Homo sapiens: one gene and its partner. The protein of the gene in region 2 interacts with the protein of the main gene of each other region in a pairwise test. Each region holds a gene or a part of one and is shown on either strand. Other genes may lie near its edges.

Region 1 (7,269 bases), on a different chromosome or scaffold from region 2:
GAGACGGAGACGTGAGGGAAGAAGGAACGATGTAAGAAGTCATCCAGGTGGGGCTGGAAAGGGGGTGGACAGGAGCATTTCAGGTGAATGGAGAAAGGGAATGGTGGGGGTGGTCCACACAGGGGCCCTGAAGGGAGAGGAGGGCAGCTGAGAAGGGAGCTATTGGGTTGGAGGACGAGGGGGTTGTAGGCATGTGCTTGTGCAGGCCATTGCTGAGAGCCTTGGTGAGCGTGCAGGTCCTTAACAAATGCTTTACGATGCTGTGTATGTGTCTGTCTAGCCTGTGAAGCTGGTTAGAGTGGATGAATGTGTTTTTGTGACTGTTGAGGCAGAGTGTGCATACAGGTATGAGGGGATGGCAACAGAGAAAGAAACAGAAACAGAAACAGGAGGAATATAAAATCGCCTTTAGAGGTATGAGGCTTAGGGCATTTTTTACTAAGTAGATACTCAAAGGTGTACGCTCTTGACAGGAATAAAGCCTGTCCTTTGGCATAAGGTACAGTGATGGCTGCTATGAAGGGTGAAGTTCTCGGCAGTGGGAAACTTGTCCCACTTTTCCATGGCATGCACCCACCCTGGGACTAAACCCTGAGCAGAAGTGACAGGGACCCATGAGTTTGCTCCCTCCCCAACTGCCGCATTATCCAAGCCAGACTCCCACTTGAGACAACCCACTCATGGCCAGCACACCAGGAGGCACGACAGGACAGTAACTGCCCAGCATCCCCTGCCATGAGGCAGGGATGCGTCCCCTCTTTCCCTCCTCCCTCCACCAGGGTCTAAGAGCTGGAGGTCTGGGCCCTGTGTTCCAGTCACACCTCATGATAAGAACACATTTTGTGACAACAGTCATACATATCATATAAATATATTTGTTCAAACTACAAAGGGATGGATATCAGGGGGAAGCTTTTATTGCTGTGGGGGGACCTGGAGAGGGAGGGGGGCCTTGGAAATGGGGATACCTGGGACCACTTGTTCCCCCCATTCCTCACAGAAGGCACAAATACATTATTTCTTTCCATGTGAGGAGATGCGAGGAGAGGATACAGAATACAGGAATCCTCAAAAATACAAAAAACCCCTCCAAACTGAATACCTAAGGTTATGGAAAAGGCTAGGGTGGGGCACAGAAGTCAATGGGGGAACAGAAAGAGGAACCAATGAAACTGAGAACCAAAAGGGACCTGAGAGGCCATGATGTCCATGCTGCTGCCTCTGTGCAGACCCCAGAGAAAACTCAGGTAAACCAACGGAAACTCCAAATAAGAGAGGGTAGGGTGCCCCAGGAATTGGCTTTGGGGCATCAGACAAGGGAGTGTGAGTGTGAGTGTGTGTGTGCAGTGGCTGTGTATCAGAAGCAACCAGGGCTAGGAGTGGACGATTCTATTCCCACAGGGGAAGGCCTCCTCCATCCCGGTTCCTCCAAAACCACTTTCAGGGGATAAATTCAGCCACTGCTTCCGAACAGGACCCCTCCCTGGGACAAAAGAGCCAGGTAGGAGAGGATGAAGTGAGAAATCTTGGGATGAAAACAGGGCACACAGAAGCAGTTCTTAGGGAACAGAATATCATGGAGCCCAGTGTGATAGAAAATGGGCATGAAACCTAAGTGTATGCATGTGTGTGAGTGTGTGTGTGCATGAGTGTGTATTTGTGCATGTACGAGGGAGTAAGATCACTCAAAGGTGAAGGGGTCCTGGGTGCTGAAAAAGAAGTGTCCATCCATGTGGTCCTCCAGGGCATCCTTGTCACTCTCAGCAGGAAAGCGCTCCTTACAGATAGGACACTCCTTCCATGTGGGGGTGGCAGGGCCCCCAGTGCTGGTTTCTGACAGGGTACCCACTGTAAAGCCACTAAGAGAGACAGAGGGGAAAGGGAGAGGGTCGGCGTGCTCTGTTCCCTTCTTGACTTGCAGACTTCGGAGAGCAGGACCCATGTGCCTGGGTTCCCAGGTTATCCTGTGCCTAATGCAGCATCCTGGCCTCTCCCACAGCGTCTTTCTCCCCACAATCCTGGAAGGCTTATTTTTCCAGTTCCCCATGTCCTCTCTTCTTTAGTCCCTGCTGGTCTCTGCAGTGCAGAGCCCATCCCCCAGCCTCCTGCTCTCCTCCCTCCATCTCCGTCTGCTGCCTAATGAGGCTGAAAATGAGTCTGACATCGTCCTTCATCTTCCTGCTCCAGCCGAGAAGGATGACAGCATCACCCCCTCCCTGCCCTGAGCCCATCTCACATCCAGGCAAAACCGGGACTAGATGATCAAATCTCTCTTCCCTGTGCCTGCCCCCTTGAACCTGGGAATAAAAGGGAAGGCAGAAGGGGACAATCTGATACCTGAAACCCCCACCTCTATAGGTTCCCTTCCCTAAGGGTTACCCAGGGAAGTCAGGGAAGAGGGAAAGCATTTCAGTTGTAGCCAGATGGATGCTGGATCCCAGTCTTCTCTCTGCTCCTATCCCTGGGGGCCATGGTCACCTCCCTTCCTCCCCGGAGGACCCTAGGTACCTACCTGGTGGTTGGGGAAGGGGTAGAGGCAGGAGAGAGGGGAAGCAGGGCAATTTGGGCTCTGCAGAAGATGGTGCTAGAACAACATAGAAGCCAGTTAAAGGCAGGACCTCTGAGTGCATTGATAAGATAGGGGTAGGGATTACCTGAAGGCATCTGGGATTTGGAGCAGTGAGTCATTTTCCTTGTTAACCATACCTGTATCTCCTTTTCTTGGCTGAGGCCAAGAAGGGCAGGGGTTGGGAGCAGGGCCTGGTGACTGTCCACACAGATGCCCTTTCCCTCTGACCTCCTCCCACCTCCCTCCTGGCCTTGCTGGTTGAACTCACCTGGCCATGTCATAGAAGGCACTGCCCAGTTCAGGAAGCAGTAAGTTGGCCTCCTCACCCCCACTCTGCACAGCTGCCATCAGGACTGACTTCTCATCTTCAGCCTCCTGGATGCCAAAGAGACAGGGTTGGGCTTTGGGGTGGTGTCCCAAGATGGGGGAGCAGCACATTGGGACAGGTATGGGAAGAGCAGCCAAGGCTAGGACAGTGACCTGAGGGGCTTAGGAAGAGTGAGGCAGGAGAGGCGTTTTGAGGGGCTGGTGAATAATAAGAGAATGACTGTGGGGGAGAAGCAGTGAGGCTATTGGGCTGGTCTGGGTTTTGGGATGATATCTACTGGTGTGGCACTGAAGAGAGGCTGGGCCTGCCTCCTCTCCCCTGGGAAAAAGAGAGCCCTGGATAGCTAAGATTCCTTCTCTAATTAGCCGGGGGTGCCTGCCTGTGGTCCCAGCTACTCTTGGGAGACTGAGGTGGGAGGATCGCTTCAGCCCAGGAGGCAGAGGCTGCAGTGAGCCAAGATCGTGCTGCACTCCAGGCTGGGACACTTGGGTTTGGCCCTGCCCCTCCTTACTGCTTCTGCACAGGCTCCTCCACTGCTCACCGAGTCAGAGCTACTGTCCTCAGCTGGCCCAGAGAGGTGAGGAGAAATGGGAGCCGGCTGGCTGATGACAACAAGGGGAGAAGCCTCTCGAGGCCCAGCAGGAGAGGAGCCTGGGTCTCCACGCTCACAAAGGCCATAGGGTGGGAGCCTCATGTCTTCTGGGGACTCGTCCTCTGAGTCTGTCAGAGCTGCCGGGCAGCCTGTAGGAGATGAAGCAGGCAGAGAAGAAAAAAGGATGTGTTGTGAGGAGTTGGACCAGCTGTCTCCTCTGGATGAGGGGTATCATTAGACTAAACAGGGGCCAGGGTCTGGGAAAGAAAAGGCAAAACACATAGAAGGCAAAGGCAGCTCCCAGCAAGGTTACATGGAGCCTTCCTCAACAGCGGGAGGTAGAGTGGGGAAGAGGTGTTACAAGATTGGGGCTACACGGACTCAGCCCCACAGCGGCCTCCTCATCCTCTGTGGTGGCATCCTCATTCCACTTCTCATCTGCCACCTTCTCCAGGCGGGCCTCTAGCTTTCTCATGTACTCTAGCAATTCCTGGAATTGGGAAGGAAAAAGGCAGGTGCTAGAGAATGGGAAGGTGCCAACCTTGCTAGCCTGCAGAAGCTGCACCCAAGAAGAACTCTTAGCTCCTCAGCATTAGATGCCTTCAGCAAAGATTGGGGCAACTTCAGGCAGACACTCCCCCCAGCACCCCTGCTTCACCACTTACATCCCTCCCTTCTCCCAGAGATCATCCGCTGTCCTGCCAAATCAGCTAATAAGAGAAGCCAGGGTACGGGCCCTCTTGGAGAGAACAGTTTCTAAGCCAAGAGATGACAGGAATTTACAAAGTTTCTAGCCCTCAAGTCCTCACCTGTGGCATCCACGGGGCCTGGGTTATGGGTGCTCACCTGTTTCTCCTCCTGTAACTGCTCCTTTTCCTTCTGGAGCACACGCAGGGCTGACCGCAGCTCTGTCAGCTCCCGCTTACTTTCTGACAACTGTACCTGAGGGAAGAGGGCCCAATGGAATCTGGAGCCTAGAATGTACCTCCAAGAACCTGGACTCTGGGACCAGGACCAACAATCTAGAACCAGGTCTCCCCATGCCTCTGCTTCTTCCCTGCTCTGACACACACACACAGGAATTCCCAACACTTCCTCCATGAGTACTTTGTCTTGGGCCACAGATACTCAGTTTTCTAAGTCTTAGTCTCTGCCTCTCGAGTGGGGACCTGCATGACTTCCTCTAGGCTGGGGTGCAGAGGCCTTGGTCATACCAAGGGGCCACTCTATAATTCTCCTAAGTCACCTCTACTGGGCCCAGATGTGTGCCCTGAGAGCAGAAAAAAATGCACATTTCAAACCAATGAGGGCTTGCGTGTGCAAGTGAAATGCCACCCAACATGGTAGTGGACACCTAGCACTTCTGAGCCCATACCCAAGACAGAGAGAAGGGGTATGGATGCCTCAGGAGGCCATAGGACAGGACCCTTGGTGGCTGGATGCCTCACCAGGCTAGAATCCTTCTCCCGGGCCAGCTCAGTCTTGAACACTTGGTTTTGGGTCCTCTCCTCCTGAACTGCCTTCTCCAATCGAAGTATCTCTGCACTCAGCTTCAGGATCTTGTCCTTCTCTGCCTGAGAGATAGCCAAGAAGGAAAATGGGAGGGTGGAGGGGGAAGAAAAAGGAACGCCACTGTCAACAGCACCATCCCTTACTGTGTCCTTTCCTTTATTTAAAGCATCATTTTTAGAGCACTTTCCCCTTTTTGCCTTCATTTCCTATACCCTCTGAATGAAGGACAGGACATGACGGCAGGTGCTGCTTGATCAGGAATGGGCATTATGGCAGGGCCTGGGGTCTAGGACAGAAAATGTTTCTGTTCCAAGGAAGGTACTCTGGTGATCAGGATTGGGATACCCCGGTTAGGGATGGGTCATGCCTAGAAAGTAAAGTGTACCTCCCTCAAAGCCCCTCTCCACCCAAGTCCTCTAAGGTTCTCAACCCCTCTTCTCTCCTCCCAGAGGGTCTGACCACATGTAGGAGTCCCCACAGAGGTGGGGGCAGTGGCCATCAGATTGCCAGGTACCCCCCATCCCTCTACCTCCACACTCTGCAGCAGCCCTGCCCGCTCCTTGCTCCATTGGCATTTTTCTTCCTTCAAGTGCAAACCGAGCTCAGCCAGCCTGCCGTTAACTTCAGCCACTTCCAGGCGGCTGCGGTGTAGTTCGGCTATGGTGCGGTCCCTGGCTGCTGCTGCACTGGCCAACTCCTCCCCAAGAAGGGTGGCTTTCTGCTGGCTTGAGGCTGCAAGCTCCTGGGCCCCTCGAAGCTGCTCCTTCAAGGGCTCCAGCTCGGCCTCAGGAGAAAGGAGGAGATGGAGATCAGAGTTCCTAGTGAATCATTCATCAGCCAGGGAGGTAAACGCTCCCTCCACTCCACTGCATTAGGACTCGGGGTTGTGTTGTTTAGTCTTTAGCCATGTCTCTCCCCTTCTCTTTAGACACGCAGGCTTCTCTACAACTTGCCCTTGGAATTTCCCGTTTCCTGTTGCCAAGGGGCCTCACTCACCACCCGCTGCTGGGCCTGGCCTAGGGTGTCCTTCATCTGGGCCACCTTGTCTTTCAGTCGCTGAGCCTGAGCACTCTGCTCCTCTTGCCAGCTCTTCGCCTCCTTCAGGTCCAAATTTAAGTGATGGTTCTCCTGTTGTGCCACTTGGAGCTCAGCCTGAGGGAAGTGGAAAGCAGGTAAGGAAAGGGGTATGTGTGTTGGGGTGGCTCGGGAGGTGAACCATTGTGATGAGAGAGGTCAAGGTTCCACTTCTCAGATTTAACACACACTCAAGCCTTCAGCTATTGCCAGCCCTTCTTGGGTTCTCAGCTCAAATAACTCAATCCTGCATATCCAGTCTCCAGCTCCCAAATTGAGGTATCCAGCATCGCAGCCTTGGGTCTTCTGTGTAGGCATTCCATGTACCATTTCTGCTACTCTATTCTTTCTCTTAAATCAAAACTCAGTCTTCATGCCCTACAGGCCCCTTAAACTCAACAGTCTACCTCTCACCCCATCCCAGTCTTTCCTACTCTTATTTCCGTCCAGGGTACCAACTAGCTCCCACGTTACTCAGGATGGAGTAACCTGGTGCCCTTGGTGCCATGCTTGGCTCTGTCCTCTCCCTAGCGGCCCACAGAAAAACCTATTGCTTCTCCATCCTGGTCACAGCCATTTTCCCTTCTCTATTACCACCACAACCACGTTATCTCAGACTCTGGTCATTTCTTGCTTGGACTACTGAATAACTTCATAAATAGTTCATTCTCCACAAGGGAATCAGATTATTCTTCTTTAGGTACAGTTCTGATTCTTTAAATACAGTTATTTTCTTTTTTAGAGATAGGGTCTGGCTCTGTCGCCAAGACTGGAGTGAAGTAGCATGGTCACAGCTCACTGCAGCCTCCAACTCCTGGGCTTAAGCAATTGTCTCAACTCAGCCTCCCCAGTAGCTGGGATTATAGGTGTGTGCCACCACGCCTGCCTAATTTTTGTATTTTTTTGTAGAGATGAGACAGGGTCTCACTATGTTGCCCAGGCTTGTCTTGAACTCCTGAGCTCGAGGGATCCTCCTGCCTTCACCTCCCAAAATGTTGGGATTACAGGCGTGGGCCACTACACCTGGCCATAAGTACAGTACACGTCACCCCTGCTTGAAAAATCATCAAAGCCTTTCACGCTTGTGGAATAAAAATGAAGCTCAAGATCCACCACAGTCTAACCTAGGCCTTATCTCAAACACTTCACCCGCACATTCAACTGCCCTGAGTGTTCTGGCCTTTAAGCCTTTGC
Region 2 (7,952 bases):
AGTTGTGGCACAATGGTGCCTCCATTGTCGAAAGAGGTCTCCTAAACATTGTGTTTCCGTATTCATGGTAGAAAGTGCAAGTGTAAAAAGCAATAATTTGTCCTGTACTTTGGAGGGGATGTCTTAGAATGCCTTAGGACACTGGGCCCTAAAACATTGCTAATGTGGTGGTTCCTTGAAACTATTTAGAGGTTATCACTCCCCTCTGGAACACTTGTGTCTTACCAAGGCCTTCAATGAATAGTCACTTTTTGTTCATCTTGTTCAATCTGCATGATGTTATTGATACAGTGAATGAAGGTGATATTCTGCAGGATGTCCAGCTAACTTATATCTCTTCAGAGTATATTGTAATAGACGGCAGGACAGTTAACATAGCCTTGGGGTAAGGTTGTAAATTTATGGCCCATTTAAGAGCAGCCTTAGAAGCACTGTGTTCAGACCATCTCCCAAGAACCTTACTAGGGTGTTAAATCCTCTATCCTAATATGGTGTTTCCTAACCGAGAAACTTTTTTGTTCCACATCCTCGATCACACACCCTCCAAATCCAGTGCTGTGCATAATCTCTCTGCTCCTGATGGTATATGCTGGTTATTAGATTCTGTAGCTGCTCTTGGATATATTCCTTCTTTTTCAGGCCCAACATATCTGTGGCCAGATTTTACTGTTAATTAAGCCTACTTATGGATATAGGTATCAGGAGGGAAGGAGAGGGAAGAGCCTGGGAAAGCTAATGTCTTGCTAGAGAAAAGGCTTTGCATTGCCTTCAAGAAATGAGGGAATGCTAGTCATTAAGAAAAGAGTAAGTCATTTCTAAAGACCAGATCAATTAAAAGAATCGAAGGACTCATAATTTTCAGTGTCATCAACTTTATCCCATGTGTCACGGTCCCATTTCTCAACCAGAGTCCTGACCTTGGCATAGAAAATATGCATTTTTTAAGAGTTTAACCTTCTTTGGAGCTCTGCTACCTTCAGTCCTAGTCTTGGTCCTCAGCTTTCTCTCTCTTCTTATTGCAGGAACTGAGAGACTCAATGCTGCCAAAAAGTTCTTCCAGCCTTCACACTTAGCTTTTAGTTGCCAACTATCTTTTTTTTGGTCTTTTTCTAGAGCATCAATCAAACTTTGAAACTGTCATTCAATTCCTTTATTCTTATAATTAGTATTTCCTCCATATTTTTCAAATTCTTAATTACAGTGAAGGCATTCCTTTCCAGTAGTATATGATTCTAGTTCATCTTGCTGGAAGTTTAAAAAAACTGCCAGGGGCTATCTGTGCTCCACAGATATTAGTGGTTAGGTATTCATTATCTGCCCAACAGTGGGTGACCCAGCTCCAAAATCCATCCACATTGGCCTCCTTTCATCTTTCCTAGCAACAAATGTCACAGGTTGATTTCCCTGGAAAGCAGACTCTGAGATAAAAATCAGCACACTGAAGACTTAATAGACAGTGCTATTTTGGCTATTATTTCTTCCAATATTCTTTCTGTTCCATTCTTGTCTCATCTCTCCCTCTTGGACTCCAACTACATATTAGATCATTTGATATTGCCCTCCAGGTTACTAAAACTGTCATCATACTTTTTTCAATCTCTTCCTGTTCTTCACATTGGATAATTTCTAGTACTCTGCATGCAATTTCACTAATCATTTCTTCTGGAACCTATAATCTGAAGTTTAGATTACCCAGTGAGCATTTCACTCCAGACATTGCACTTTTAGCTTGAAAAGTGACATTTGGCTATGTTTTCAGTCATCTCCATCTCCCTGCTGGTATTCCCTATCTGCTCAGTCTTATGGCTACCCTTTCTTTTAAGACCTTGAATATACTTGTAACAACTTCTTTAAAGTTCTTTTTCTCTTAATCCTAACATCTAGATTGTCTTGAGGTCTATTTTTATATACTGGAGGATTCTGAACACAGCAGTGACACGCTCTAAATTTATGTTTTTGAAAAAGTGCCACTCTAATAGCCGTGTGGTAAATGGAGTATAAAAGTCTATGTAAATGAGGTAAATGGATAAATAGGGATACAAAAGTCAAATATTGGGCACAACTTATGATGAGTTACAGTTAGATGGAAGACGACAGTGGTTTTGTCTTAGGTGGTGGCACTGGTGTGAATGAGAGGAATTTGGTTCTGACCACCAGGTCTTGCTGATAGACTGGACAAGGACAGAAAGAGGAGTAAATTAAAGGATAAACCCCTGGTTATTGTACTCAGTTACTAAAACGGGGTTGCCATTTGCCTAGATATCAACAGGGGAGAGAAAATATTCGAGGACAGAAGAAAACTAAGAGTTCTGTTAGTACATTTAAATGTGAGGTATCTATTGAATATCCAAGTGGAGATGTCGAATAGGCACTTGTGTATGAGTATGGAGTGCAGAGTGAGGGCCTGGATGTTAAAAATTTGGAAGTCAAAGGTATATGGGTGATATTTAAAGCCACAGTCTTAGGATAATAGATGTGAGGACTGAGCTCTGGTATACTTGTATTTATAGAGGTTTGGGGAATGAGAGGAACATAGGAAACGAGCTTGAAGTGAGGTGGAAGGAGAAATAAGAGAGAGTGGTATCCCAAAGACAAAGTGAATATGGTTCAAAATAAAGGGAGTAATTGGTTTGTCAAATGTTGCTGTTAACTGGGAAAGGTGAGAAATAAGCCTTTGTTTTATCAGTCTATTGAGATTTTGGGGTTTGTTTCTGTAGCATATTAATGTATTAATCAATACTGTGTAATATACCTTCTTGATTTTCTTGGAATTTAGATTCTAAAAGTAAGCATTTAACATTAACTAATAAAGCTACTGAGAGTCCTATATGAGAAAATTTTGGGCATTTGGTCCATAATATGATCTTGTCAATTAGAACAGTTATTTTCTACTTGTCATTTGAATATTCATTTATGGGGTCTTACTCACTTTTTCTGGTAACATTTATAAAAATTATCTTAATAATTGTATTTCTGAGGATAATAATTTATCACTGAAATGTGCATTCACCTCCCTTTTGCAGCCCAGTGATGCAGAGGTTGATACACAGTTGATATTCAATAAATGGTAAATGTGCCCATCAAATATCTATTTTATTAATGTTATTTAACATGCTATTACCACAATGATTGCACCATTAAACTAGGTTGTCAAGGACCAATCTCAGACAGCACAATATATATGGAAGTTGATTTCCTTACTGAAGGGTCAGAAACCTAATTTAAAAACATGAAAGGGAAATGAAGTATGTTGACTCACGGCCATGAGGGCCACGGCAGAAGACTGTGTAGATGCCAAGGTCCTCGCTGAGGATGTCTGAAGTCTAGGCCAATCTCTAATCTCCAACCTACTCTGTGTTAGGAGGCTTTACAGGGTGGAAGGAACACTTTTATTAGTCCACCCAAAATAGGTAGGTACCTTTTGGTAATCAGGTCTTGAGGGGGTACACTTATTAGCACAAATCAGCATATCTGCATATAGAAGACCTTGCAATGGAGTGGTATCCGGAAAAAAATATCATTTTGGGTCTGACGGGTTCAGACAACACTTTTAAATGGGATCTCTCAAAGTGTGATGAGAACCAGAAAAAAATGGCTATTTCTAGTAGCTTCGGTACAATTGAGCAAGAAACACCAAAGGATGGTCTTTTCATAACTTTAAAGCAGTGTGGTTCTCAAGTAGGGGGTATATTTGCCCTCTGGGGAATATTTGGCAATGTCTGGAAACATTTTTGATTGCCATAACTAGAGGGAGGAGCGGTCACTAGGCATCTAGCGGGAGTAGAAGCCGGTGATGCTGCTAAATATCCTGCAAATGCACAAGATGCCCCATCCCCAAGAAAGAGAAATGTCCATTCCAGAAGTCAACAGTGTCAGTTGGGAAACCCTGCTTTAAAGGTTATTTTCTTAGAAGAGGACAGCTTTAATACCTAAAATCTAATTTTATGTTTAGGCCCATGCCTATCTTCGCAGGACTCAATTCCAAGGAAATTCTGTTCATAATGCATGCTTTCTAATTCCAGTTAATTATAGCGCCTTACAGTGTGCAGAAGGCAGAGGATTGTTTTATTTGAAAGTGATCCCTTTTACTTACTTAAAAACAGATATCCTTAGTTTCAATATAAAGTTCAGATTTTTGCTTTTAATAGTATTTATATTCCCAAATCCAAGTCCTCCCAGAAATAGGTTGAGATGAAGGGAGGCCAGATATCAAATCCATTCCTAGAGATATTGTGTTCTGTGGGACCGAAAAAAGACAAAACTTGAACCTTGACTGGCCCTCTAAGGATTAAATTCTGCTGCTCTTCTTAGGGTATCTATCGGACTGTCCCTTTGGTTGTAAGATACCACTGCCATCTCGAGGAGGACTGCATGCTTCTGCACAGAGCCAACAGGTAACTCGTCCTGGCGGCTCTGTGTACCCAACCACAACCCTAGACTGCCAAGAACACTGCTCATTCGAAGGCGAGCGAAGCCGCGAAGAGGGCCAGCGTTAGGGGAAGGGTGGTACAAACCCTTGTGTGAGCTGCAGCACCGGGGCAAGAACAACGGGCAGCCCAGGCGGGTCTTGGGTCTGCGAGACCACTAGGCGTTCTGCCGGCAGTCAGAACCGCGGCAGAAAGGGCGCGAGCGGGGAACTGCGGGAACGCAGCGGCCCGGGAAGCTGGAGGGGGCGGACCCGGCCGGCGAGCGCAGGCGCTCCCTGGCTCACGCGCGCACCCCGGCCCCACCACCCACCCTTACGCCGCGGCCCGCCCTCCGGGGCGGGTAAGAGAGCGCGCGAGCAGCGGTCGTCAGGACACGCCCCTTCGCCTCCGCGAGCTGGCGGGCGGGCTGGCATCGCCGGGAGGCGGGGCCGCGGCAGCCGGCTGGGTGCGACTGGGCGGCCTCGGAGCTCGCAGACGCTCGGGGGAACATGGCGGCTGCGGAGCCGGCGGTCCTTGCGCTCCCCAACAGCGGCGCCGGGGGCGCGGGGGCGCCGTCGGGCACAGTCCCGGTGCTCTTCTGTTTCTCAGTCTTCGCGCGACCCTCGTCGGTGCCACACGGGGCGGGCTACGAGCTGCTCATCCAGAAGTTCCTCAGCCTGTACGGCGACCAGATCGACATGCACCGCAAATTCGTGGTGCAGCTGTTCGCCGAGGAGTGGGGCCAGTACGTGGACTTGCCCAAGGGCTTCGCGGTGAGCGAGCGCTGCAAGGTGCGCCTCGTGCCGTTGCAGATCCAGGTGGGTCCTGCGGGAGGCCGCGCGCTTCCCTGTTCCCGAGTCGTCCCCGTCCCCGTCCCTGTCCCCGCCTTCGCCGCGCTCCTCAGGTGCCCCGAGCCGCCCGGGACCCGGGCCCTGCGCGAGTGGCTGAGTCCGAAGGGCTGCGCGTCTTTCGCAAGTTCCGGGGCCGGCTGGGGAATGCCCCTGTCCAAAGGTGATGGTCACCAGCTGTCCCCGGCGGGGGCGTGGGCCTCGTAGCTGGTTTCAGCGCCCGCGAACGCCCCCACGTGTGTGGTCCTCGGTCGCCCGCATCCGCTTTTTATGCCAGGATCAGGTCCCAGCCTCCTGCGTAACCAAAGGGCTGTGCTGTAGTAGCTGTTTTTATTTTGGGGTGATGGGTGATGCAGAATGGGGGGAAATGAGATTGTGGGGAGTATTGGTCTTAGGGTTTGTTCCTAGAGTTGTGTTAACCACTTGCGGAAACGCAAACTTTGGGAGTCAAACCCATTCCCCCCCGCCTTCCCAGGCTCTCAGGTCCTTGGGCTTAAGAGTTCCCTAACCTTAAGCAAATAACCATTTGCTTAGCCTCCTCTTAGTAAAGTGTCTACTGACTTGATTACGTTTTGTCGTCTGCATTGAAAAAGTCATTTGACTCCATGATTGTAATTCCTTCTTGAATACAAATACCCAACTTAAGCTAGACCTTGAGTTCCTGGGCCTGCTGGCTGGGAAAGTTGTTCTACCTGAGGACTACTTAACAGCATTTATTTTAAGCTGTGCTCTCATGCTAGGCGGGTTAATCTTCCGCCCTCTTTAGGATCAGATTGTTCACTGGCGAATTTATATTTTGGAAAGGAAAGAATATAAGGTATAATTTAGGTAGTACACTGTCGATATCATTTCTTTAGCTGAGAAACTGATAAGTCATTTTTTCAGAAGACCAAACTGAAATGTGGGATTCGGGGATAAAAGGTATTTTAATATTTAAGTGTCATTTTCTTTCTTTTTTGTTTTTAGTTTTTATGGGCACATAATAGTTGTACATATTTATAGGAGACGTGATATTTTGATTCAAGCATACAGTGTAGTGATCAAATCAGGGTAATTGGAATATCCATTACCTGAAACATTTATCATTTATTTCTTTGTTCCAAATTCATTTTTGTAGTTATTTTGAAATATACAATAAATTATTGTTAACTATAGTCACGCTATTGTGCTACTGAACACTAGAGCTTATTCCTATTATCTGTGTTTTTTGTACCCATTAACAGTGCCATTTTCTGAGGATTATTCCCTAGTTTTTTTCCGCTGTAGTTGGCAGCTGAATTGATGATGTTTCCTGTCACCCCAACACCTGTGCCAGAAGTGTCCAAAGCAGGTACTTTAGCTTCGATAAAGTTCCTGCATTCAGAGGACAAAGTCAGAGACTGCACTCTCTGCCAGTGGAGAACCTGGAACTGGATACAGTGATCTGATACCCCAGAATCTTACCTGCTGCTCAGATAGGGAATTGCAGTTCTTAGGTGCTTAAGACTCCTCATTTTTATGTCTTCAAGCGTTTTCGTGTCTGACACCTCTCTGCAGCCTTCCTTGTCAGTCCTTTTACGTTACTGCTGCCAGAATACTCAGATGTTGGATGCACCTTTGAGAAGTCCATTTATAAAGGCTAGAATCCAAATACTAACTGCGGAGGTCTGGGACTAAGGATGCAGACTTCTTTATGAAGCATTTCCTGTTACGGCTTGGAGGGAGGCTGGGCTCTTATCTAAGATAATGCTATTCTAAACTAGGCCCCAGCTCTGTAAGAGTCCCCGCCTTCCAAGATAGGATTTTTATATTTGAAAATTTCAGGGCCTTGGTCTGGCAACTCTTAAAAACATTCTAGAAATTAATGAAATGTATGTACCTGAAAACGCTTGTACATTCTCAAAAGGCGTTATATAATTCTGGTCACCTGTAGCTTTTGCAGTGTTTTGCTTGGTATAGGAGATTATGTATAGTTCACTTTTTTTTGGTGAGGTTTAAAATAACAATAGCATTACTCTACTCCCTCTTCAGAAGAAATTTTTCCGCCAACTAGTCTAATAATTCTTAAGCATTAGTTATATTTTTGCATTTATATAGCTTTATATTTTTAATTCTTTAAAAATATTTTCTCTTCTATATTATCTCATTTTAGTAGTTATACTTTGACTTCTTCAGCCTGATGCCTCTCCTAGCTTAGAGGTAGATAAAGGAAGGGGATAGATACATAAATATGCACACACTGTGTATCGTATATACCTTCTGATACCGATTTATGTCTATATGAGAAGAGAGAGATATATATACACACATACATATATATGCATATGTGTGTATAATCTCAGAAAGTCATGATATTTCTCATGACTACTGTACACTATATTCTTTGGAACCTAACAGCATAATCCTAGAGACTTGGATGTTTTATGGCTGTAAGAGACCATACAGTTCATTCCACAACATGTGAGTGGCAGCTTTAAATGCCTGGCACAGTGAATGCAAACTTGGATTCAATTCTTGTTCCTTACCTAATAAATGAACTTTCACTTTGAGGAAGTGCAGAAGAACATAGGGAGGTGGAGGTGAGTAACTTGCTGCAGGTTACATGGCAAGTCTCCGCATATGCCTGGCTAGCTCCTCCACAAATGCGTGTGGAGGAGCTAGCCAGGCATATGCAGAGCGTCACTTACAGCCGAACACAGCACTACTGCTTGCATGTTTA

Evidence for each region.
Region 1: the proteins of ISOC1 (region 2) and CALCOCO1 interact in binary tests that used the Homo sapiens proteins (3 or more experiments, as listed by UniProt).

The regions. Positions count from the first base shown.
Region 1 is NC_000012.12:53,710,263-53,717,531, forward strand, and holds part of CALCOCO1 (calcium-binding and coiled-coil domain-containing protein 1), read right to left. Parts: intron 6,154-7,269; coding exon 5,998-6,153; intron 5,786-5,997; coding exon 5,531-5,785; intron 5,064-5,530; coding exon 4,938-5,063; intron 4,432-4,937; coding exon 4,336-4,431; intron 3,980-4,335; coding exon 3,871-3,979; intron 3,639-3,870; coding exon 3,439-3,638; intron 2,945-3,438; coding exon 2,838-2,944; intron 2,585-2,837; coding exon of another isoform or gene 2,513-2,584; intron 1,860-2,512; coding exon 1,682-1,859; 3' UTR 1-1,681. UniProt on the Homo sapiens protein: Functions as a coactivator for aryl hydrocarbon and nuclear receptors (NR). Recruited to promoters through its contact with the N-terminal basic helix-loop-helix-Per-Arnt-Sim (PAS) domain of transcription factors or coactivators, such as NCOA2.
Region 2 is NC_000005.10:129,089,852-129,097,803, forward strand, and holds the start of ISOC1 (isochorismatase domain-containing protein 1), read left to right. Parts: upstream 1-4,897; 5' UTR 4,898-4,915; coding exon 4,916-5,224; exon of another isoform or gene 5,225-5,548; intron 5,549-6,697; exon of another isoform or gene 6,698-6,928; intron 6,929-7,836; exon of another isoform or gene 7,837-7,915; intron 7,916-7,952.